Linked DNA regions of Homo sapiens. The protein of the gene in region 1 interacts with the protein of each later gene in a biochemical or structural test. Each region holds a gene or a part of one and is shown in the gene's direction. Other genes may lie near its edges. The genes, in order: PDLIM2, ABCC4, ARHGAP21, LIMK2, MAST2, DOCK4 and ARHGEF11.

Region 1 (3,500 bases):
CAGTAATCAGGCCGGGCGCAGTGGCTCACACCTGTAATTTCAGCATTTTGGGAGGCCGAGTCGGGCGGATCACCTGAGGTCAGGAGTTCAAGACCAGCCTGGCCAATACGGCGAAACCCCGTCTCTACTGAAAATACAAAAATTAGCCGGGCATGCTAGTGGGCACCTGTAGTCCCAGCTACCTGGGGGGCTGAGGCAGGGAGAATTGCTTGAACCCAGGAGGTGGAGGTTGCAGTGAGCCGAGATTGCACCACTGCGCTCCAGCCTGGGTGACAGAGCGAGACTCCATCTCAAAAAACAAAAAAATCAGTAATCTTCCCCCAAATCAATCTACAAACCCGAGGCTGAGTGATATCAGTGACAAAGTCCAGGCAAAATAGAAAAAAAAAAAAAAAAAAAAAAAAAAAAAAGGGCAGGATAATGTGAGGACTCTCTAATAAAACTGAATGTTTGAACTTTCTGATGAAGTTATGTACGTTCTACTTTTTAGAACCAAACTATCCTTTCTTTTTTTGGGGTGGGTTTTGCTGTTGTTACTGTCGTTTGAGATGGAGTCTCACTCTGTCGCCCAGCCTGGAGTGCAGTGGTACAATTTTGGCTCACTGTAACCTCTGCCTCCCTGGGTCAAGCAATTCTCCTGCCTCAGCCTCCCAAGTAGCTGGTGTTACAGGCATGCGTCACTATGGCTTGGCTAAATTTTTTTTTTTTTTTTTTTAATTAGAGATGGGGTTTCACCTTGTTGATGACCAGGCTGGTCTGGAACTCCTAACTTCAAGAGATTCACCCTCCTTGGCCTCCCAAAGTGCTGGGATTACAGGCGTGAGCCACCGTGCCCGGCCTTGGTGTTTTTTTGAGACAGAATCTCGCTGTGTTGCCCAGGCTGGAAGGCAGTGGCACAATCACGGCTCACTACAACCTCCATCTCCTGGGCTCAAGCGATCCTCCCACCTCAACCTCCCAAGTAGCTGGGACTACCGGCATGCACCACCATGTGCAGCTACTTAAAAAAAAATTTTAGTAGTCATGAGGTCTTCCTATGTTGCCCAGGCTGGTCTTGAACTCTTGGGCTCAAGTGATCCTCCTGCCTTGGCTTCCCAAAGCGTTGGGATGATAGGCGTGGGTCAATGTGCCTGGCCAACTGTCCTTTCTTTTAAGGAACCATGGTTGTCATTGATGATAGTTGTTTGTCTTGAGTTTGACAAAGTTAAAAGTTGACAACCGGATGTCCAAATTTTCTGTAGCTTTTACTGGTGTTGAGAACTAGATCTGGGAACAGTTTTGGCCTCTTTTGGGGGTTGCAGGGTGCAGGGCCCCTGTGACATTCCCTCCCTCTGTTGCCTTCTCAGGTCTCAGGCTACGTCTCCAGGGCAGACCAATGGGGACAGCTCCTTGGAAGTGCTGGCGACTCGCTTCCAGGTAAGCTGGTGCCCTCCCCTGACAGCCTCAGCACCCTGATCACTGGTGCATGAAAGTGAGGCCCGAGGGCAGGGCGGCCTTGGCGGGGCAGCCCTGCCTTTCCTGACACAGTCACTCTCTCCACAGGGCTCCGTGAGGACATACACTGAGAGTCAGTCCTCCTTAAGGTCCTCCTACTCCAGCCCAACCTCCCTCAGCCCGAGGGCCGGCAGCCCCTTCTCACCACCACCCTCTAGCAGCTCCCTCACTGGAGAGGCAGCCATCAGCCGCAGGTGAGTGTGCCTGTGAGTGGGTACCCTGGTCGCCTGCGCTGCCAGCTCCAGGCTGGCTCCTCTGAGTCTCAGGAGCTCTGCTTGGGAGCCCGGGGCAGCATCCTCCCTGGGCAGGCTGGGGGTGGCCCTGGCACACACTGTCCCTTTCCCACTTTCAGCTTCCAGAGTCTGGCATGTTCCCCGGGCCTCCCCGCTGCTGACCGCCTGTCCTACTCAGGCCGCCCTGGAAGCCGACAGGTGAGGCTCCCTGGGGGAGGACAGGCTGGAGGAACAGAAGCACCTCCCGTTCCTGTGGGTTGCCAGTGCCCCGGGACTGCAGGCGGCCAGGCCCACCTGGGCAGCCATGGCCTCCTTCTCCTGGCCACAGGCATGCTCTGCTCCTGAGCCAGGGAGGCCATGCTTCTGGTCGTGGGCCACCTGTGCTGTGCCCAAGACCTGCCCAGCAGTGCCCAGTAGCCCGTCCATCTCCTGCACCCCTCCCCTCATCCCCCTCCCCTCCCATCCTGCTGACTTCCTCCCTGCCCAGTATGTTTCTCTTGGGCTGTGGCTGAAATAGTTTCGCTGCTGTTGTTGGGATGATTCCCTTTCGTCTCTGGCTGCATCTCTCGAACACATTCCTCCCCATTCCAAGACCCGGGCCTGCCTGACTCCCACCCACACCCTCCCTTCCTCCTCTGACTCAGCCCAGAGATGCCCCAGTGGGACTGCGGTTCTGCCTTGAGCGCTCTTGGCTTATTCTGTCTCCTCCTCCCCCTACCCCCGCCAGCTCCCCTGGACTCTCTTTCAGCCAGGTCCCAGTGGCCCCTGGTGACAGCCTAACCCCCTTCCTGGGTGGTATTTCTCCTCTTCAACGGTGGGGGATGGTGAGGGAGTGAGGCAGCCAACAGCCCTGGGCCGCAGCTGCTGGGGACGGCGTGGGGGGCACGTCCAGCCTTTGGGGTGATGGGGATATGGCCCAGCTGCTGAGCCCTACCTTTGGGTTGATTCTGCATTCCAGAAAGCAGAGCCTTTGGGGGTGGCCAGGGAGGGCACTAGAACCCAGAGGCTCTGGAGGAGGAAGGAGCAGGATCTTTCTGGGGGCCTTCCGAACAGCGGCTGCCTAGTGACCCGCTGCGTGCCCACCCAGAGGCCAGCCTGGCACTGTGGCCATAGAGATATATTCCATGGGTCCCCTTGTTAAGGAATTGAAGATGCAGTTGTAGAGATAAGGCAAACTTGCAAAACAATTTTGGAGCAATTAGGCACTAAGCAGTGTGGTATTAATTACAAAAGCAGGAGGCGTTCTGGGAGGGGAGGGGAAGGAAGGCTGTGTGAGGAGTATTGCTGGACGTTAGAGGTGGTGGTGAGAGGGTTTAGGGAAGGATGAGCAGGAGGCCCGACATGCTGGGAGATGGAGAAACACTGGTCCGGGCGACGGCTGATGTATTGGGGCTGGGGGATTTTTTAGGGGGAACCTTTGTTCTGAGATGAGCCAGGAATGAGCTTGTTTCAAGAGGGCTGGTCAGTGTCAGTCCTGGCTCTGTTCCGCGACACCTCTGGTGGGCTGTGGTCTCAGCAGGACCCACGTGCTCAAGGGCAAGCCTTCCCGAGCTTCCCCATCGTGTTGCCCCCAGTCCAGGAAAATGAAGGGTGTGGGAGGTACAGAGGCATGGCTCCCAAACCAGCGGCAACACCTGAGAACTTGTTGGAAATGCAACTTCCCAGGCTCCAGCCTACACCCGCTGAATTGGGCATGGGGCTTGTGGGTCACGAGCCCAGAGCTGGGTGTGGGGAGACTCACTTGGGTCGGTCCCACCTCTGCCTGACGACTTG
Region 2 (3,500 bases), on another chromosome or scaffold:
TGTGGGTGGGGGTGGTGAGGTTTCAAGTGCTCCAGGTGATCCTGATTTGAGGCGCTTACTGCTTCCAGCTACTCCTTTCATTGGAGTATTATTACAGTATTATGCTTTTCTTTATTTTTAATTGTTAAAATTTCTTTATTTCTTTTTTTTGAGACGGAGTCTTTCTCTGTTGCTCAGCTCTGTCACCCAGGCTGGAGTGCAGTGGTGCAATCTCTGCTCACTGCAACCTCTGCCTCCTGGGTTCAAGTGATTCTCCTGCCCCAGTCTCTCAAGTAGCTGGGACTATAGGCGTGCACCCTCACACCCAGCTAATTTTTGTATTTTTGGTAGAGATGGGGTTGCACCATGTTGGCCAGGCTGGTCTTGAACTCCTGACCTCAGGTGATCTGCCCGCCTTGGCCTCCAAAAATGCTGGGATTACAGGCATGAGCCACTGTGCCTGGGCCAGTTTGAGGGATTTTAAAGTCTGAGGCCTCATAGTGAGAAAATAATAATAATCATCATCTGAGGAATGCGGAGTCCTTTTAAATTATCAGGCCCAGAGAGACATTAAAATGACACAGCAGTCACCTCGTAGTTCCCACCCCCTTGAGCTATTTACTTATCACTCGAAAGTACTTCATATTGCCACATAGCTACAGATTAACCTAACAGTGCCCCAAGGACACTGTAATCCACAGCTCAGGAGTTTGAGCTCCAGCGATCTGCCTGCCTCGGCCTCCCAAAGTGCTGGGATTACAGGCATGAACCACCACACTGGGTCTGTAGTAAATTCTTGAGTTATATTTTGTGCCTTAGCCTCCTGCTTTTAGGTCAGTATTTGTGTACCCTTCCCACTGCCAGTGGAAAGCTGAAATGAGCCCATCCAGGAAGTGGCTGCCTGGAGACAGGGCCCACCTTGTAGGGAAAAACTGCTTTTTCACCTTCTTGTTGAGTGTTTGCTTTTCTTCTCAAATATCATCTGCTTTCTGAACTTGTGAACTGGCAGCTGCCTACCTAAATGATGCCAATAACTGGCTTACTGACTTTTATTCAAAGTATTTTCCCGGGATTTTGGTGTATTTATAGCATAATTTGGACTTGGAGTCTAAAAGGAGTCATGCATTATGGCTGTTGGCAATTGTGGATTTTTAAAGGTAGTATTTTCACCTATTTCTTTCTTTTTTCTTTCTTTTTTTTTTTTATGAGACAGAGTTTTAGCTCTGTTGCCAGGCTGGCCGTGGTGTGATCTCGGCTCACTGCAACCTCCGCCTCCAGGGTTCAAGTGATTCTCCTGCTTCAGACTCCCAAGTAGCTGGGATTACAAGTGCCCACCACCATACCTGGCTAATTTTCATGTTTTTAGTAGAGACAGGGTTTCACCATGTTGGCCAGGCTGGTCTCGAACTCCTGACCTCAGGTGATACACCTGCATCGGCCTCCCAAAGTGCTGGGATTACAGGTGTGAGCCACTGTGCCTGGCCTTCCATTTTCTTTTAGCTATTGTTTCATTTCTAACAATAAAGGCAGCTAGAATTTCTTTTGGTATTTGATATGAGATAGTCCCCATTTTTTCCCCAAACAGCTCGTTTTCCCCATTATCATTTATTGAATAATTCCTCCTCTTTCCCGTTAGTGGAAATAAGTGGCATAGCCTATGAACTGTGGCCAGCTGGGCACAAGATGGGTCAATCCCTGAGACTCTCCTAGGAATTGTCCTGCTGCCCCCTGGTGCCCGGCAGGCACTTTGCATTCCTCTGCCCACACCTGATCCAGAGGTGATCTGGGGTCAGCAGCAGGGTGGAGGCTAACAACGAAGGACTTTTCCCTAAATATGGGCATTGAGAGGGATCTCCAGATGCATCTGGCCCACAGAAAGTGGTTAAATCCTTGCTCCCCTGTTGCTGGCCATATCTCAGTGGGTGAAGTGTCATCTTGCAAAGCCTGTGCTGCTGTGGAAACTGCCACTGGTGACCAGACAGACTCTCTGGAGACCTGCCCTAGAGAGCTGATGACATGACTATAGAAGCAAACACAAGTGGCTGAGGGCAGGGGATGGCTTAGAGAGGAAGGGTGTGTGAGGCCCTCAGTCAATGCATCAAATGTTTAATTTTATATTTTCTTTTTCTATAATAAAAAAAATATTTTTCTTGTAGAGATGAGGTCTCACTATGTTGCCCAGGCTGGTCTCAAAATCCTGGGCTCAAGCAGTCCTCCTGCCTTGGTTTTCCCAAGCGTTGGGATTACAGGAATGAGCCACTATTCCTGGCCATTTAATTTTGTGTTTTTGTGTGTGTGTGTGTGTGTGTGTGTGTGTGTGTGTGTGTGTGTGTGTGTTTTGAGACAGGGTCTTGCTCTGTTGCCCAGGTGGGAGTGCAGTGATGCAATCATGGCTCATTGTAGCCTCAAATTCCTAGGCTTAAGTGATCCTTCCAGCTCAGCCTCCCAAGTAGCTGAGCTACAGGTGCACGCCACCACACCTAGCTAAAGTGTTTTTTTTTTTTTTTTTTGACGGAGTCTCACTGTCACCCAGGCTGGAGTGCAGTGGTGTGATCTCAGCTCACTGCAACCTCTGCCTCCTGGGTTCAAGTGATTCTCCTGCCTCAGCCTCCCAAGTAGCTGGGACTACAGGTGCCTGCCACTATGCCCAACTAATTTTTTTGTGTGTTTTTAGTAGAAATGGGGTTTCAGTATGTTGGCCAGGCTGGTCTTGAACTCCTGACCTTGTGATCCGCCCTCCTTGGCCTCCCAAAGTGCTGGGATTACAAGCATGAGCCACCGCACCTGGACACCTAGCTAATTTTTTGAGGGGCGGGGGACGGAGTCTTGCTCTGTTGCCCAGTCTGGAGTGCGGTGGCGTGATCTTGGGTCACTACAATCTCTGCCTCCAGGGTTCAAGTGATTCTCCTGTCTCAGCCTCCTGAGTAGCTGGGACTACAAGCGCACGCCACTGCATCCAGCTAATTTTTGTATTTTCAGTAGAGATGGGATTTCATCATGTTGACCAGGATGGTCTTGATCTTCTGACCTTGTGATCTACCCACCTCGGCCTCCCAAAGTGCTGGGATTACGGGGGCGAGCCACTGTGCCTGGCCAGTAATTTTTATTAATACATTTTTGGTAGAGACCAGGTCTCGCTGTGTTGCCCATGTTGGTCTTAAACTCTTGGCTTCAAGTGATTCTCCCGCCTTGGCCTCCCAAAGTGCTGACATTGCAGGTGTGAGTCACTGTGGCCGGCCAAATAGTAAATTTCTGTGTCTGCAGAATCACAGTCTCTTGGGGTTGAGCATCCTGAAATCTGCATTTTTTAAAGCATTATTTCCTGGTTGATTCAGATGCTGAGATTTGGGAGCCACGTTTCTCAGGTCTTTCTCAGTCTTTGGTGTCCAATTCTACTTGATCGGTGTCTGGGAGGCCAAGGTTACTGCCTTGATCCTCTGCGGTTTAGATTATTCATTTAGCAAACATTTGAGTGCCTTATTTTTATTTTATTTTTTGTTTTTAATTTTTTAATTTTTGAG
Region 3 (3,500 bases), on another chromosome or scaffold:
TATCCTTTAAATTTTACTTTTGAGATGCCTATGTTTTCATTGAAGGGTTGAGGATTACTTTAGACAATAACATACCCAAATGAACCCTCATTCACTGTCTCACTTTCTTTTGCACCGGATGTTAAATTTTAACTTCATAGTCCTTGAAACAAGGGCTGGCTCTAAGTGTGTGAGTTTTGGCATTTTAATAAAAATGAATCAGAAGTTAAATTTTGGTTCATAAAGCAAGCGGAGAAACTTGCTTCATGCAGCTTACTTCATGTCGAATTAGAAAGTTTATGCAGAAAACGTTGTGAGGTACAGTGTGCTATTACTGTACAATTTATTAGGCAGAACTGTAGGTTTACATTTAGAATCAGTGTTTTACTTTTTGACATCTGTAAACACCTGCTTGCAGGCAAAAGCATGATTAAGTGGAACACCACAATCCTCTGATCACGGTAAACCATAATAACTCCTTTTGGAAGGCCTACCTGCAACCTGGTGATTGCTTAATGTGTATTGCAGTTACATAATAATATGTATTGTGGTCCTGAAGCCTTATTTGTCATTGTCTTGTGAATACTTTAATTAGCATTGTATTTGCATTCTGTTTGCAAGAACTAATGTTATTTGATTTTTTTTTTTTTTTTTGGTCATTTAAGAGATGTCCTGAAACCAAGAATTTAGACACATCTTGTCCTTGGCTAGCAAGCAGTATTTCCAGTTTGTTGCACACTTGGCTTTTATTAACAATGACAGTTATGTATTTTTTAACGGCTGTGAAATTTGTTTTCATTTGGACCTTACTGCTGGCAGCATGGCTATCTTGTTTTTAAGTTTAGCAATGAAGAAAACACAATATCACCTGTGTTTTGCTTATGTGAAATATATATACAGTATTTAGGTTTGGTATTAAACTACAATATTATTTGACTTTCTAAAGAATAGGTATTTTGCCTAGATTCTATGTGGAAGTGGAAATAAAGGGGATATATGTTGTCAGAAAACATTTTAAAACCTCAGGGTTGGGAGTGAAGAGAACTTGTGTAATTATTGCCTGTATTTAGTTGTGACGTGTTTTAATCTGTGATTGATGCTTCTGATACACATTAAATCTTGTGAATATTTTTTAGTAATAGGGAGTTAGTTGCTAATGAAATACTTTGGGCTGATATTTAGGTTTTTGAACATTGCATTTAATTTTTGTCGTCAATTTTATTAGAAGCACTACATTCCACAGTGGTACTATCACTCTTTAAAAAATTTTAAAAATCAATAATGTGTTTGGATACTACATTTATTATTGTGTTTTTAACTAACAAAGAGATGAGCATGTGTGTCTTAATAGTAATGCTGTTAATCAGCCAAGAAAACCTAACTTTATAGGACAGAAGAAATCAATGTAATGAATTAACAGGAGTCTCTGTTTCATGCTTTATCTAATTAGCCAACTCCACCTTCTCTGAATAAGGCCTTGTGCTTTGTTGAAAAACAATCAGAGATTTCTTGTTCATCTTAAGCATTGCAATTTTATTGTGTTGATATATGATATACATTTAGGCCTCCCCACCCCCAGGATATATTGGAAGCCTCAAAACAAATAAACAGCCCTCTTCAAATAAGAAATTAGGACAGTTCAGTAGAATATGTCTTGGCATTATACAGTAAGGATGGTCCAGATGGTACTCACACGAATTTATATACTTTTATACATCTCAAGGTGTATTTTTAAAACTTGAAATCACTCACTCTGAACCTCTTAAGTGATTTTTGGGGTGTGTGTGTGTGTGTGTGTGTGTGTGTGTGTAGTCCGTGAAGTCTTCTGACACCAATCCTTGAGTAACTTTGCTCACAAAATCACTTTATATAGATTCTTCTGTTGAATCCTCTATGATATTATCACCCCTTTTCATATCCATATAGCTTCATCTTTCAAGGTTTAACTTTTTTTTTAAGCCAAAGAAGAGAAAACTTTCCCTCAGCTTTCTTAACCACATGATTTTTTTTCCATTTCTAACATTTATTTCATTTTTTATCTGTAGTCCATACTCTTGTCCAGTAATAGAATTTTTGTCACTTTATTATTAAACTTTTTACTAATGCAAATGAACTTATTTTTGTTTTGCTTCTTGACCTAGGCTAAGATTATTCTATGACTGAAATGTATTATGGCTGATGAAATACACTTGTTGGTTGATTTTGAAATACTGTAAACAATACAATAAGACATTTTTCTGGGTACGAGTTTGTATGAATCCATGTGTTGACTCTTCCTTCTGGAATGCTGGACAGTTTGCTTTTGCTTTCATCCCAGACTCCCTAGTTCCTTCTCAGGCGCTCTCTCTTCTCCTCCCCTCCTTTCTATCTCCCTCTCTATCTGCCTCTTTTGTAGGGTTTTTCTTCCTCTTCTTGCCCCATTGTTGGTTTTATCCAGAGCCAAGGCCTTTCCATTCCTGTATTCTCTTTCTCACTCCCTGGGTTTTATTTTGCACTCTCCTGTGTGCTGGTGACTCCGTATCTACCCCTCTATCTCAGGCTTTATGGTTGATCTCTAGACCTTTTCAGCCAGTTGCCTATTTACCGAACACTTTTGGGGGATATTCCCCAGGCATTGCAAACTCATCAGATTTCACCGCTACCGCTGACTCTCCCTCTTCCTGTGCACCTTCTTTCGCTGAGTAGCACTACCATCTATTTATTGGTCCAAGTCAAAAACTAGGTCAGCATTCTCACTCTTCCGTCTCGTCATTCCTCATATGCAAAGTCTTGTGGAGTCCACATTCCCAATACCCACTACCCCCACCTGAGTTCAGGTCAGCTGCATCTCACTGATGAACCACAGAAACAGATTCCCTACGGAGTTTCCCAATAACTTAGCCTTGTCCCCTTCCGCAGCTCTGTCCCTACTGTAATCAGAATGATCCTCCTGATGGGCAGATGACCTGAGGTCAGGAGTTGTACACCAGCCTGAGCAACATGGTGAAACCCGGTCCCTACTAAAAATACAAAAATTAGCTGGGCGTGGTGGCGCACACCTGTAGTCCCAACTGTTTGGAGGCTGAGGTATGAGAATCCTTGAACCCGGAAGGCAGAGGTTGCAGGTAGCCAAAATCGCGCCACTGTACTCCAGCTGATCGTTACATTACCTCCTATAAGACAATTTTCTGTCTTCCCATTTCCTTTGAAATAAAATTCAGACCTCTGTGAAGTCTGAAAGGACTTTGGTAATTTGGTCCGCGCTTCTGTCTCACTTGTTACTTCTTTTTGTTCTTCCTAGATTGAACTCCTGTCAGGTCCTTTCTTCTACCCTTCCCTCTACTGTCCCCTGTTCCTCCTCCCTCTGCTCCATGGCTGATTTTTACTCATCATACTGGTCTTTTCTTCAATACTGCTTCCTCAGGAAAGCCTTCCCTGACCCGCAAGACTCTTTCAGTTGCCCCTAGTGTATTCTCTCAAAACACCCTGCACTTTCAGGAATACCAGTTACAAGTTTATCTATATCCCCCTTGGATTGCAGT
Region 4 (3,500 bases), on another chromosome or scaffold:
AGAAGCATTTCTCCAAAAGTAGGAGTCTTAATCATGTCTGATGTAGGTTGAGTGTGGCCAGAAAAGGGGCTGTTAAGTATAGAGGGCCTGGATTATGAAAATCCAGCAGATCCATTGAGAGTTTAAGCAGCAAGGTGTTGTGACCAAGTTAACATTTTAGAAGGATCACTGGTATGGAGGTTGGATTGGAGAGGGGAAAGCCTAAAGGTATAGAGACTAGTTAGGAAGCTATTGTAGGCTGGGCATGGTGGTTCATGCCTGTAATCTCAGCACTTTGGGAGGCTGAGGTGGGAGGATTGCTTGAGGCCAGGAGTTGAAGACCAACCTGGCCAACATAGCAAGACCCCGTCTCTGTTTTTCTTAATTAAAAGAAAAGTCCAGACGTAGACATAGTGGCTCACGCCTGTAATGCCAGCACTTTGGGAGGCCAAGGTGGGCAGATTGCTTGAGGTCAAGAGTTTGGGATTAGGCCAGGCGCAGTGGCTCACGCCTGTAATCCCAGCACTTTGGGAGGCCGAGGTGGGCGGATCACAAGGTCAGGAGATCAAGACCATCCTGGCTAACACAATGAAACCCCGTCTCTACTAAAAGTACAAAAATTAGCCGGGCATGGTGGCGGACGCCTGTAGTCCCAGCTACTCGGGAGGCTGAGGCAGGAGAATGGCATGAACCTAGGAGGCGGAGCTTGCTGTGAGCAGAGATCACGCCACTGCACTCCAGCCTGAGCGACAGAGCGAGACTCCATCTCAAAAAAAAAAAAGAGTTTGGGATTAGCCTGGCCAACATGGCAAAACCCCATCTCTACAAAAAGTACAAAAAAATTAGCTGGGTATGGTGGTGCGCGCCTGTAATCCCAGTTACTCAGGAGGCTGAGGCATGAGAATTGCTTGAGCCTGGGAGGTGGAGGTTGCAGTGAGCCCAGATCATGCCACTGCACTCCAGCCTGGATGACAGAGTAAGATGCCATCTCAAATAAAAATTAAAAACAAAGTTTAAAAAAAAAATAGAAGCTATTACCGTGATCCAGGTAAGAGATGTGAATAACTACAATGATGGAAAGAAGGCAGAGTTCTTAGAGATGGGAGTAGGAGAGATGAGGGAACTCCAGATTGGGAAGATGATGTTCAAGTTTCTGGCTTAGGCCACAGGGTGAGTGGCAATTCCCTTCACTGAGATGGGGCATCCTGGAAAAGGTGTTGCCTTTCTGTGTGGGTATCCTGGGCCCCTTAGGGGCCACTGGTGGCCTGGGACCTGGTAAACCTTCCCTGCACAAGCAGAATTGGTCAAGCAGGTTTTTAGGACATCTTTACCCTGCCTCAACTCTTGTCTGGCCCAGGGTCAACCGGATGCACATCAGTCCCAACAATCGAAACGCCATCCACCCTGGGGACCGCATCCTGGAGATCAATGGGACCCCCGTCCGCACACTTCGAGTGGAGGAGGTAGAGTGTGTGTCTAATCTGTCTTGTGAGGGTGGGACATGGAACAGATCCTCTGAGAAATCAGGCTGTAGCCTTTACCTTTTCCTACCCCCAGCCCATCTCTTTGTCTTAGCATTGAGCCTGTGACCACTGGTGACCTATTTCAGCGTAACAGGTTCCCAGGGTAGCAGGGATGGTTGATGGACGGGAGAGCTGACAGGATGCCAGGCAGAGGGCACTGTGAGGCCACTGGCAGCTAAAGGCCACCATTAGACAAGTTGAGCACTGGCCACACTGTGCCTGAGTCATCTGGGTTGGCCATGGGTGGCCTGGGATGGGGCAGCCTGTGGGAGCTTTATACTGCTCTTGGCCACAGGTGGAGGATGCAATTAGCCAGACGAGCCAGACACTTCAGCTGTTGATTGAACATGACCCCGTCTCCCAACGCCTGGACCAGCTGCGGCTGGAGGCCCGGCTCGCTCCTCACATGCAGAATGCCGGACACCCCCACGCCCTCAGCACCCTGGACACCAAGGAGAATCTGGAGGGGACACTGAGGAGACGTTCCCTAAGGTGCCACCTCCCACCCTGGCTCTGTTCTGTCCTATGTCTGTCTCTCGGATGAAGCTGAGCTGGCTTTCAGAAGCCTGCAGAGTTAGGAAAGGAACCAGCTGGCCAGGGACAGACTATGAGGATTGTGCTGACCCAGCTGCCCCTGTGGGGATCACAGTTTACAGCCAGAGCCTGTGCGGACCCAGCTGTCTGCCAGGTTTCCTTAGAAACCTGAGAGTCAGTCTCTGTCCACTGAACTCCTAAGCTGGACAGGAGGCAGTGATGCTAAACCCTGAAGGGCAACATGGCCTATGGAGAAAGCATGGAGCTCAGAGCCTGGAGTAGGGGCACAGATAGGATTGAATAAATTGTGTAGAAAGACTTTGAAAACAATAAAGCAAAAGATGAATGAACGTTTTTTTTAGACTTGAGGGACCAACAACCCCCAAACCCCAGATTCTGCCAGGTCCATGGGGAAGGAGAAGTTGCCTTGAGTGGAAGCCCCAAGTAGGGAGACTTACAGAAAAGAAGTCAAGAGCACTGGCTCCCAGGCAGAAATACTGATACCCTACTGGGGCTTCAGGCTGAGCTCCTCCCTTCACAAATCACTTCATCTCTCTGAGCCTGTTTCTGCATCTGTGACATAAGATGGTAAGATAAAGGTGGCTGTCTCACCAATTATGTAAGGATTAAATGTGGAAAAGGACATAAAGTTGTATAGTGCTGCCATAGGGACAGTGTTCAGTAAACGTGACACATTCTTAGTATCACTAAGAATCAGGTTCTTGGCCAGGCACCGTGGCTCATGCCTGTAATCCCAACACTCTGGGAGGCCTAGGTCGGAGGATGGCTTGAACACAGGAGTTTGAGACCAGCCTGAGCAACATAGTGAGACACTGTCTCTACAAAAAAAAAATAATAATAATAATTGTTTTTAATTAGATGGGCAGGGCACTGTGGCTCACACCTGTAATCCCAGCACTTTGGGAGGCCAAGGCCGGAGGATTGCTTGAGGCCAGGAGTTCAGGAGCAGCCTGGGCCACATTCCTGTCTCTACAAAGAATAAAAAACTTAACTGGGCATGGTGGCACATGCCTGTAATCCCAGCTACTCAAGAGGCTGAGGAGGAGGATTGCCTGAGCCCAGGAGTTCAAGACTGCAGTGAGCCTTGATCACACCACTGTACTACAGCTTGGGCAACAGAGTGAGACCTTGTCTCCAAAAAAAAAAGTTTGTTTTTTTTTATCCACTCTCCTCACCAAACAAACTGAGTAAGTTAGAGCCCTCTCAGCTGGCATGTGTTGGAAACAGTGCCCTCTCATTAAAGTGCTGCCCTCACTCCCATTGCCTCTTGGCCTTGGTCAGTATGATGAAATTAGTGGGAGGCAGGGCAACAGAGGGCAGGGAAGAGCTAGAAATCCATGGCCTGGAAAAGGGAAGATTTGGGAGTGGCCAGGTATCTGTAGAGCCACCATGCAGAGGAGGGGGGCAGCTAGCCTTGTGTGCTCTGGTGGGCATGGTCAGCAG
Region 5 (3,500 bases), on another chromosome or scaffold:
GTGCTCAGTCATTATTTATTGAATGAATGAATGGAGAATGATTCAAATATTTTGAATTTTGGTAATTTGAGTAATAATGGTTATATGATAGGAGTAGACAAAGGAAATAGAATATTTTTGAGGATGGCAGAAGATGAGTTCAACTTTAGTTCCTAAAATACCCTCAGTGTGACAGAAATTTTAAAAAATTATTTTAATGGAAATCAGAACCTCTTTCCTCTGCATTACAGGGTTAGTACATTGGGAAAAGCATAGGGCAGAAAGCACACAGAAGGGAAGCTGCGTAATATATATAGGGAACTATAATCGGTTTGTTATTGCCAGACCCAGAGCTTTACGTTGAAGGTGTAAATGCTAGGTTAGAGATTAAAGAAGCCTTGATTGTTGAGGGTCTTTAGTGTGATATAAAAGGATAATTGGCTGGGTGTGGTGGCTCACGCCTGTAATCCCAGCACTTTGGGAGACCAAGGTGGGTGGATCACCTAAGGTTAGGAGTTTGAGACCAGCCTGGCCAACATGATGAAACCCCATCTCTACTAAAAATACAAAAATAGCCAGGCGTCTTGGTGGGCGCCTGTAATCCCAGCTACTTGGGAGGCTGAGGCAGGAGAATTGCTTGAACCCGGGAGGTGGAGGTTGCGGTGAGCCAAGATCGCGCCACGGTACTCCATCCTGGGCGACAGAGCGAGACTCCATCTCAAAAAAAAAAAAAAAAAAAGGATAATAAGTAGGGGAGCAGTATATTCTTTTTTTTTTTTTTTGAGGCAGTCTTGCTCTGTGGCCCAGGCTGGAGTGCAGTGGCACGATCTCAGCTCACCGCAACTTCCACCTCCCAGGTTCAAGCTATTCTCCTGCCTCAGCCTCCCAAGTAGCTGGGATTACAGGCATTGGCCACCATGCCTGGCTAATTTTGTATTTTAGTAGAGACGGAGTTTTTCCATGTTGGTCAGGCTGGTCTCAAACTCCCGACCTCAAGTGATCCACCTGGCTCGGCCTCTCAAAGTGTTGGGATTACAGGCGTGGGCCACCGTGCCTAGCCGAGAGCAGTATATTTCTTTTTTTTTTTTTTTTTGAGACGAAGTCTCGCTCTTGTCTCCCAGGCTGGAGTGCGATGGCACGATCTCGGCTCACTGCAGCCTCCCCCTGTGGGGTTCAAGCAATTCTCCTGCCTCAGCCTCTCGAGTACCTGGGATGCCACCACGCCCAGCTAATTTTTGTATTTTTGTATTTTTTTTTTTTTTTTTTGAGACGGAGTCACGCTCTGTCGCCCAGACTCGAGTGCAGTGGCGCGATCTCGGCTCACTGCAAGCTCCGCCTCCCGGGTTCGCGCCATTCTCTTGCCTCAGCCTCTGGAGTAGCTGGGACTACAGGCGCCCACCACCACGCTCGGCTAATTTTTTTGTATTTTTAGTAGAGACGGGGTTTCACTATGTTAGTCAGGATGGTCTCGATCTCCTGACCTCGTGATCTGCCCTCCTTGGCCTCCCAAAGTGCTGGGATTATAGGCGTGAGCCACCGCACCCGGCTTTTTTTTTTTTTTGACACAGAGTCTCACTTTGTCACCCAGGCTGGAGTGCAGTGGCCTGATCTTGGCTCACTGCAAGCTCTGCCTCCCGGGTTCCCGCCGTTCTCCTGCCTCAGCCTCCCGAATAGCTGGGACTACAGGCGCCCGCCACCACGCCCAGCTAATTTTTTTGTATTTTTAGTAGAGACGGGGTTTCACTGTGTTAGCCAGGATGGTCTTGATCTCCTGACCTCGTGATCCGCCTGTCTCGGCCTCCCAAAGTGCTAGGATTACAGGCGTGAGCCACTGCGCCTGGCCTAATTTTTGTATTTTTAGTAAAGATGGGGTTTCACCATGTTGGCCAGGCTGGTCTGGACCTCCTGACCTCAGGTGATCTGCCCGCCTTGGCCTCCCAAAATGCTGGAATTACAGGTGTGAGCCACCGCGCGCGGCACAGGAGCAGTATATTCTTATTTGTGTTTTAGTTGGATTACTCTGGCAACTGTGTGGAGGATAGGATGCAGGACATGCTGTTTGAGACATGAGCATTTGAGAAATCTTCCGAGTTTTCAGTGCAAAAGTTTATTTGACCTCCTTTCCCTCTTATCCAGGGTATGGGTAAGGGCTAGCTCCTAAAAAGGTGTTAACTTTGAAATATTTAGTTTCATCAAAAGTACTGGGAGCAGAGAGTCTATGGTGGCTTGAAGCAGGTTGGCAAATGTTCCCTGATGAGGGTAGGACACATGTGATTACAGAGTTTTCCCATCATTGTTCTGGATGTCTCTTGGCCTAAAGATCAATCTGTAAGCCTTTTTTTTTTTTTTTTTTTTTAGACGGAGTCTCGCACTGTTGCCCGGGCTGGAGTACAGTGGTACCATCTTGGCTCACTGCAACCTCCGCCTCCCAGGTTCAAGTGATTCTCCTGCCTCAGCCTCCCAGTAGCTGGGATTACAGGCATGTGCCACCACGCCTGGGTAATTTTGTATTTTTAGTAGAGACTAGGTTTCTCCATGTTGGTCAGGCTGTCTCAAACTCTCGACCTCAGGTGATCCGTCCACCTCGGCCTCCCAAAGTGCTGGGATTACAAGCATCGGCCACTGTGCCTGGCCCTACTCCTATTTTTAATAGTCCGTGTAACATTTTCATTTGGATAGCTCAGAGACCTCTCAAACTTAACATGTCCAAAAATGAAGTCTTGATTTTCACTTTCTAGTCTGCTTCTTCCCCAGTCTGCCTCATGTCAATAGATGGCACTACTCATTTACCAGAACAAAACTGGAGGTTGTGTTTGATTTTTTTCTTAACCTTACCTGTATTCCACATTCAGCCCCTCAGGTCTGTTTGCTGCTACAGTTGTCCCTCAATATCTCTCGGGGATTGAGTACATGACCCCCTGCAGATACCAAACTCTGGTATGCTCAAGTTCTATCTATAAAATGGCATAGTATTTGCATGTAACCTATGTATATCCTCCCATGTACTTTAAATCATCTCCAGATTATTTATAATATATAATACAATGTAAATGCTATGTAAATAACTGTTACACTCTATTACTTAGGGAATAGTGACAAGAAAAAAATATCTATACATGTTCAGTATAGATGGAACTATTCATTTTCTTTTTCTCTGCATACAGTCATGTTCCGCATAATTATGTTTTAGTCAATGATGGATGACATACAAGATGGGGGTCCCATAAGATTATTATTATTATTATCATTTTTTTTTTGAGACCGAGTCTTGCTCTGTTGCTCAGGCTGGAGTGCAGTGGTGCGATCTCAGCTCACTGGAACCTCTGCCTCCTGGGTTCAAGCAATTCTCCTGCCTCAGCCTCCCAAGTAACTAGGATTACAGGCAGCCGCCACCACGCCTGGCCAATTTTTTTTTTTTTTTTTTTGAGACGAAGTTTTGCTCTTGTCCCCCAGTCTGGAGTGCAGTGGCACGATCTTGGCTCACTGCAACCTCTGCCTTCCGGATTCAAACAATTCTTCTG
Region 6 (3,500 bases), on another chromosome or scaffold:
TTTTCGTAACTGATGTATAGGCACCGTCCCATTTAATGAATGATTAAATTCATTAAAACAACGAAAAGTCAGTCATAAGTGTTCTGATTTTAGGAAAAGGTATAGTGATGAAGTTATAGTTCTGAGGAACAGGGAACCTTGTCTTTTAGAAATCATGTTAAGAGGCACAGTGATAGGCAATTTCACCTTAGGAGATTCTAGTTAGCTCTTGATTCTGGGCTAGACACTGCTGCCAGCTGTGTAACCTTAGGTAAATCACTTAGCCTTTCTGGGTCCCAGCGTCTGGGGCAAGTGTTAACTAAAGCCTTCCCTGGTACTAATTTTGTAGAGCTCTTCCAACTAACTGTGTTCTTTGGTTAGAAAAACATCTTCATTGTGTTGAGACTGCTATGACAGAGACACTTTTGTTGTGACATATCTCACTTGGTTTTTAAGTAAGATCAGAGGTAAGCAAACGCTACCTGGCAAGCTGCCAGAACTGAGGTGCTGGTTCCTCTCTTTCTCAATTTGTTTGATTCTCTCTGGCTAGTAGGAGCTCCATGGGCAGTGACTGAAGCATTTTGTTTGTTTTTTAAATGTATTTTCCTTGACAAATAATAATAATATATTTTTTAAGTTTTCATTTTTTTTTTTTTAATTTAGAGACAGGGTTTTGCTCTGTTGCCCAGGCTGGAGTGCAGTGGCTATTCATAGGCGCCATCATAGTGCACTATAGCCTGTAGCCTCAAGCTCCTGGTTGATCGCCTCAAGCAATACTCCCACCTCAGCCTCCTGAGTAACTGGGATTACTGACATGCACCTTCTCACCCAGCTGTATATATTTATGGTGTACAGTGTGATATTTTGATGTACGTTTACAGTTGGAGTGATTAATCAGGCTATTAACAAATTACACCTCATATAATTACCATTTTTGTGGTGTAAAAAACATTTAAAATCCATTCTAGCACTTTTGAAGTATACAATGCATTGTTATTTATTGTATCTCCATTCTGTGGATATCACCTCCCATCTGTTAGAATGGCTGTATAAAAACAATGAAAGGTAACAAGTATTGGTGAGAGTGCAGAGAAAAGGGAACGCTGTGCACATGTTAGTGGGAATGTAAATTAATACAGCTGTTATGTAAAACAGCATGGAGGACCTTCAATGAACTAAAAATAGAATTACCATATGATCCAACAATTCCACTGCTTGGTATATATTCACAGGAATTGAAATCAGTATGCTGAAGAAATATCTGCTATCCCATGTTCATTGAAGCAGTTCTCAAAATGTCTGAGATATGAAAGCAACCTAAGTGTCCATCATCAGATGAATGGGTAAAGAGAATGTAGTATCTATACACAATGGAATATTATATAGTCTTGAAAAAGGGGAAAATCCTGTCATTTTCAGTAATGTGGAGGGTATTATAGTAAATGAAGTAAGTGTAAGTCTGGCACAGAAAGATAAGTACTGCATGATCTTGCTTACATGTGCAATCTAAAGAAGTTTACTTCATAAATATAGAGATTAAAGTGATGGTTGCCAGAGTCTGGGGGAAGAGGGTGGTTGGGGAAAGTGGAGATGATGATCAAAGTGTACAAAGTTTTGGTGAGACAGGGGGAACATGCTTTAGTGATCTATCGCACAGAATGGTGACTAAAGCATTCTTGATCGCATACTCACCAATTTCCTCAGATTACCTCTACCTCCTGCATGTCCTCATCTGTTAGCACACCCCCCCATTCCTCCCCCCTCCCCACCCCGCCTTAAAGTGGTGGGAATTATTCATGGAGAAAGCTAAGACCTTTGCAGATTGTTTTTGCGTTCATTTGTCCAACAGGCTTTTATGCACAGATTCACAGATGAGTCATGGCATCTTCCTGAGCTGAAGGCTGCACCCCTCAAACCTAGCCAGATGTTTTACATGTGTGAGCTTAGTTAAGCTTGACAGGAGAACACGGGCTGGATTGATCGGTGCAGAAAATCCATGAACCTTATAAGAAACAAAACTCAGAACAAGCTGATCTGAAGTCACAGTGTCATTTAAAAAATAAATTGTGTGGTGCGAGTATCACTCAGTCATCACATAAATTCCTGTATTCTATTTTTCTTGAAGGAGTTTTTGAACTCATCTGGGTAGGAATCATGTTCCTTTTTAAAGCCCCTTCTATGTTGGTGGAAGAAGATGCACCTTCTCGTATTCATACAGGATAGTTAGGTGTCTTTCTCCTTAGAAAGATGCTTTAATCATAGCGTATGTGTGTGATAGAGCGTAATAAGGATGTGTTTCCTTTACTCTTAGTTTTTTGTAGTTTCTTAGCTAACAGTTTCTTAAAGTGTTTTCTATTAGTGGTCCTATGATGTATCTACATAGCATGTAAAGCTAAATAATAATGTTCTGCTTGGAATTGTTTGTGACATTTAGAGCCTGACACAGGATTCTAAACTTTAAGTGGGAATAGAAGAGAAATGATTTATACCTCCCAGTAAAATACCACCGAAGGGCCATACAGACAGTGGGATAGCAGCTTATGTTCTTGATCTGGCCTCCTATGGGAATGGTCTATAAAAATGTTCCCCTCTTTTGGTCATTCCCCTAAGTGACAGTTCTTCACAAGGCCCCTGAAGCCACATAGAGATGCTGCTCTTCCTCTATGATCTTGTTTTTTTTTGTTTTTTTTTTTTTATTTTAGAGGCTGTTATGGTAGCTAGTACGAGGGAGATTATACAAATTTCAAGAAATTTAGGATTTCCTATCTCTAGCTCTATTCTTTTCCAAAAGGAGACAACATTTTCTGAGTTATGTTTGATACAATATGTCTATGTTTCTATCACAGTGACTTCATGCTGTGAATATATACATCAGAGGAACATTAAACTCTAATGAAACCCTTCTAAAAGGCTGTAACCGTAACACAGTAATACAATGTTTTACTTAAAAAGTGAAATTATTTTATCTGAGTCTACCCTTTGAAGTTGAATGGTAATTTCTATTTAAGAGATGAGAAAACAGTTTCATAGAGTTTAAGTGACTTACTCTAGATTAGTAGCTTTTAATCTTGTTTGACTATTACCCATAAGAAATATAGTTAATTTCCTGACCTAGTATATATATAAATATCCCCCAGTACCACCCCACACACATATAATTAAAACAGCACTTGCTTATACTCTATGTAATGTTCTATTCTTTTTTGTTAAAAAAAATACTTGTCACTAAATTGACTTGTTAATGGGTCCTGACCCACAGTTTGAAAAACACTGCTTTAAATGCTACATTTGTGATACCAGAAGGACTGCAACTCACATCTTACTGGGTTTCTGTGAAGTTCCTTTCATGACATTGGCAAGGAGTTGATGGTGGTGGTGGTTATTGTCTTTGATAGTCAGATATGTGGGTTTATTTTAACAAAGAATTTAATTATCCTTTTTTCCTTCAGTCTAAGTCAAAGTCTGTCTTCTGTAGTATTTCTTATTAAAGATGGAACAAATATTTAAAGCCATCACATGCA
Region 7 (3,500 bases), on another chromosome or scaffold:
CATTCCCTCCACAGGTCTCTTGAGAACCCAACCCCTCCATTCACTCCCAAAATGGGCCGCAGGTAAGTGATGGGCACGGTGGTGCCTCTGTTTGGTGTCTCTGTGTCCCATCCACACCCAGCTGCTCCTCTCACCTGCAAGGGGCTGGTTGGGTGGCTGTCTCCTCTTCTGGGCCCACTGGTTTCCCATGTGCATGGGGCAAGCAGGTCGGGCAGGAGAGGGAGGGCCAAACCCTCTGTGTGAGTTCTTCCTCCTAAATGAAGCTGAGCTGCCTGTTTTCCCCCAGGAGCATTGAGTCCCCCAGTTTGGGGTTCTGCACAGATACCCTCCTTCCCCACCTCCTAGAGGATGATCTGGGCCAGCTGTCTGACCTGGAGCCAGAGCCAGATGCCCAAAATTGGCAGCATACAGTGGGCAAGGATGTGGTGGCTGGGCTAACCCAGCGGGAGATTGACCGGCAAGAGGTCATCAATGGTGAGAACGTGCTCCACTGCCCCCAGCTCCGCTCACACGTGTGGGAATAGGTCCAGAATGCCTAAGACACAAGGGTGGGAAAGAGGTAAATAGGGTGGGGGGCCCCTGTGTGCTGGAGCAGGTCCACATTGCCTGTTGCTATAAGGTTCCCCTCAGTTCTGGCCCTTGGAGTAAGAGAAAAGTTGCTGTATGATCTGAAACTGGCACTTCAGTTCCCCCAAAAATAGAGTGGTGTGGGAACCAGGTCAGGGACTCTAGATACTTGCTGATCCGTTTTCTCCCTGGCTTTCTACCCTCCTTGTCACAACCACCGCTCAGAGCTGTTTGTGACTGAAGCTTCCCACCTGCGCACACTCCGGGTCCTGGACCTGATCTTCTACCAGCGAATGAAGAAGGAGAACCTGATGCCCCGGGAGGAGCTGGCCCGGCTCTTCCCGAACCTGCCTGAACTCATAGAGATTCACAGTAAGGAGCCTGTGCCCCTCCAGACTCCTCTTCTGCTGCCCTTCAGCTTCCTGTTCCACTTTGGCCCCACTGCCAGGACCTCCCTGAGTAGGTAACCTCCCACCAATCCCTGGTGAGAAAAAGATCTGTGGACAGCCTGAAACCAGCACTGGAGTTCACCCCGAAAGTACAATGGTTTCCAGACCCTTCCCATGGCACTGCTGTCAGAGATTCACTTCTCTCTGTCAGAAAGGTTCTGGCAGTTGAGCTCAACCCCAGGCATTTCTATTTGTTCTCTTCCTGCCCCAGATTCCTGGTGTGAAGCCATGAAGAAGCTCCGGGAGGAAGGCCCCATCATCAAAGAGATCAGTGACCTCATGCTGGCCCGGGTATGGCTCCAAACTTCTCCCTCTTGGCAAGGAGGAGATTGGGGGAGGCAGGGTCTCATTACCCAAGGCCAGAGAATTTGGCAAAGGCAGGGGTCTGGTCCCAGGCAGGGGTTTGATGCCTGGCCCCGTGTCCATTCTGCCTCTTCAGTTTGATGGCCCTGCCCGAGAGGAACTCCAGCAAGTGGCTGCACAGTTCTGTTCCTATCAGTCAATAGCCCTAGAGCTAATCAAGACCAAGCAACGCAAGGAGAGTCGATTCCAGCTCTTCATGCAGGTGCGTCCTTGGCCATGCCTTGGCCTTCCTTCATCTCCATCAAGGTCACCAAGGATCTCCTGAACTTCTCTCCTTCTGGCCACATCATCCCTGTCTACAGCAACTCCCTCTACCCTTCGACACACGCTCCTCAAAAGCACTGACTCACTCTAGACAAAGAGACTTCTGTTTGTTGGAAAGAATCCTGGATTAGCAGTCAGAGGCCTGGCTCACCCACCAGCACCTGTGTGTCCTGAGATGGATCTCAGTTTCCTTGTCTATAGAATGGCAGCAATATGCCTGCCCTTCTGTTTTGACCATATCCCTTTGGATTGGTGTCTCCCTGCCACCACACACCCTTCTCTACATCTTTAAGGAAGAAGCTTCCACTGCCATTTCTGAGTGATCCATCTGGCGTTAGGACCTGTTTGTCATGTTCACACCCATCTTGGCCCTGAGCCCATAAGCCAGCTCCCAGCCACGCTGACATCTCCTCCCTTCTGTGTCTCCTGCTGTCTAGGAGGCTGAGAGCCACCCTCAGTGTCGGCGGCTGCAGCTGAGAGACCTCATCATCTCTGAGATGCAGCGGCTCACCAAGTACCCGCTGCTGCTGGAGAGCATCATCAAGCACACAGAGGGTAGCACCTGGGGAGGGGCTGGCATCACAGGCAGTGGGCCTCGTGCCAGACCCTCATTCTGACACTGCTTTGTGACCTTAGCAAGTCACTGTGCCTTGTGGTCTTTGGTGTCTTCGTCCTTTTTCTGTTGTGGGGTGTTTCAGAGAAGAAAATGATTGTAAATGTCCTTTGGAAAATATAAGGTGTTTAATAGTGGGAGGAGTAGGGGCCACCATCGAAGGCCACCTGTGTGGGCCTTTGTGCAAATCCAAGGAAAGCATCCGGTGCCCAACACAGGCTGGCACTCAAGGGCACCTGGGTCCCTCTGGTTGCATGGGGCTGGATTTTATCCCCATTCATGCCCCCTGCAGTGCACAAAAGACACAGCCTATGTGGTTACACTAGAGGGGCAGGGGACCAGACTGAACAAGAGGGTCTAGCCTCAGGTTATCACTCTCCCTGGGATCCTGGGCATCTTTCACTACCCCCAAATTTCAGACATTGGAGTCAGGACAGAGAGGTGTTAGGAACCCCAATCTGATTTGAACAGGCTTTCTAGAGGCATAATTGTGGCCATTTACCACAGTCTCTGTCCCTTGCATCTGTAGAGCTGGTTGTAGTAGAGGCAGGGATTCCCAGGAGCTATCAGCGTCTTCAAAGCAGTGATCTGTCTGAGACCTGAAGATGCTCAGTAAAAGTTACCCTTACCACTTGGGGTCCTCATGTGAGGCAAGGGTGGCTCCCCTCCACCCACGCCTGCTGGTTTGAAGCAAGCCAGCTGCCATGGATGAATAGGCAGATAACAGCTGGCGCCATGTTGGACTTCTCAGGCAGGAGCCCCAACCATCTCTTCTGTCCATTTTGGTAGGTGGCACCTCTGAGCATGAGAAGCTGTGCCGGGCCCGGGACCAGTGCCGGGAGATTCTCAAGTATGTGAATGAAGCGGTAAAACAAACAGAGAACCGCCACCGTTTAGAGGGCTACCAGAAACGCCTGGATGCCACCGCCCTGGAGAGGGCCAGCAACCCCCTGGCAGCAGAGTTCAAGGTAGGAGGCAGAGGCTGCAGCAGTCAACCCCTCACACTTTGTGGGTACCCTTAGGAGCAGAACACTGGTCAGGGCTTGGAGAGTCTTAGAGGTAGGAGACAGAGACCAGATAGGGTGGCACAATGGAGCCCCAGAAGACACACACCCTGCTATTGTCACCCTGTCCCTAGATGGACAAGGCAGGCCGCCCCACCTAAGAAAGACTAGATGTTGGAACTCAGCCTGAGAGAGCAGGGGATGGGGTAGAACTGGAGGTAAGGTGGAGATCTTCTGGGA

The links.
Region 2: the proteins of PDLIM2 (region 1) and ABCC4 interact in a test that uses a peptide from one of them, tested with the Homo sapiens proteins (one large-scale study listed by IntAct).
Region 3: the proteins of PDLIM2 (region 1) and ARHGAP21 interact in a test that uses a peptide from one of them, tested with the Homo sapiens proteins (one large-scale study listed by IntAct).
Region 4: the proteins of PDLIM2 (region 1) and LIMK2 interact in a test that uses a peptide from one of them, tested with the Homo sapiens proteins (one large-scale study listed by IntAct).
Region 5: the proteins of PDLIM2 (region 1) and MAST2 interact in a test that uses a peptide from one of them, tested with the Homo sapiens proteins (one large-scale study listed by IntAct).
Region 6: the proteins of PDLIM2 (region 1) and DOCK4 interact in a test that uses a peptide from one of them, tested with the Homo sapiens proteins (one large-scale study listed by IntAct).
Region 7: the proteins of PDLIM2 (region 1) and ARHGEF11 interact in a test that uses a peptide from one of them, tested with the Homo sapiens proteins (one large-scale study listed by IntAct).

The regions. Positions count from the first base shown.
Region 1 is NC_000008.11:22,583,475-22,586,974, forward strand, and holds part of PDLIM2 (PDZ and LIM domain protein 2), read left to right. Parts: intron 1-1,346; coding exon 1,347-1,416; intron 1,417-1,542; coding exon 1,543-1,688; intron 1,689-1,846; coding exon 1,847-1,925; intron 1,926-3,500. UniProt on the Homo sapiens protein: Probable adapter protein located at the actin cytoskeleton that promotes cell attachment. Necessary for the migratory capacity of epithelial cells. Overexpression enhances cell adhesion to collagen and fibronectin and suppresses anchorage independent growth.
Region 2 is NC_000013.11:95,294,952-95,298,451, reverse strand, and holds part of ABCC4 (ATP-binding cassette sub-family C member 4), read left to right. Parts: intron 1-3,500. UniProt on the Homo sapiens protein: ATP-dependent transporter of the ATP-binding cassette (ABC) family that actively extrudes physiological compounds and xenobiotics from cells.
Region 3 is NC_000010.11:24,717,388-24,720,887, reverse strand, and holds part of ARHGAP21 (rho GTPase-activating protein 21), read left to right. Parts: intron 1-3,500. UniProt on the Homo sapiens protein: Functions as a GTPase-activating protein (GAP) for RHOA and CDC42. Downstream partner of ARF1 which may control Golgi apparatus structure and function. Also required for CTNNA1 recruitment to adherens junctions.
Region 4 is NC_000022.11:31,260,798-31,264,297, forward strand, and holds part of LIMK2 (LIM domain kinase 2), read left to right. Parts: intron 1-1,336; coding exon 1,337-1,442; intron 1,443-1,797; coding exon 1,798-1,994; intron 1,995-3,500. UniProt on the Homo sapiens protein: Serine/threonine-protein kinase that plays an essential role in the regulation of actin filament dynamics. Acts downstream of several Rho family GTPase signal transduction pathways.
Region 5 is NC_000001.11:45,810,112-45,813,611, forward strand, and holds part of MAST2 (microtubule-associated serine/threonine-protein kinase 2), read left to right. Parts: intron 1-2,337; exon of another isoform or gene 2,338-2,460; coding exon of another isoform or gene 2,461-2,478; intron 2,479-2,836; exon of another isoform or gene 2,837-2,889; coding exon of another isoform or gene 2,890-2,916; intron 2,917-3,500. UniProt on the Homo sapiens protein: Appears to link the dystrophin/utrophin network with microtubule filaments via the syntrophins. Phosphorylation of DMD or UTRN may modulate their affinities for associated proteins. Functions in a multi-protein complex in spermatid maturation.
Region 6 is NC_000007.14:112,199,900-112,203,399, reverse strand, and holds part of DOCK4 (dedicator of cytokinesis protein 4), read left to right. Parts: intron 1-3,500. UniProt on the Homo sapiens protein: Functions as a guanine nucleotide exchange factor (GEF) that promotes the exchange of GDP to GTP, converting inactive GDP-bound small GTPases into their active GTP-bound form. Involved in regulation of adherens junction between cells.
Region 7 is NC_000001.11:156,944,743-156,948,242, reverse strand, and holds part of ARHGEF11 (rho guanine nucleotide exchange factor 11), read left to right. Parts: intron 1-14; coding exon 15-62; intron 63-286; coding exon 287-474; intron 475-792; coding exon 793-939; intron 940-1,227; coding exon 1,228-1,307; intron 1,308-1,455; coding exon 1,456-1,581; intron 1,582-2,080; coding exon 2,081-2,198; intron 2,199-3,045; coding exon 3,046-3,224; intron 3,225-3,500. UniProt on the Homo sapiens protein: May play a role in the regulation of RhoA GTPase by guanine nucleotide-binding alpha-12 (GNA12) and alpha-13 (GNA13). Acts as guanine nucleotide exchange factor (GEF) for RhoA GTPase and may act as GTPase-activating protein (GAP) for GNA12 and GNA13.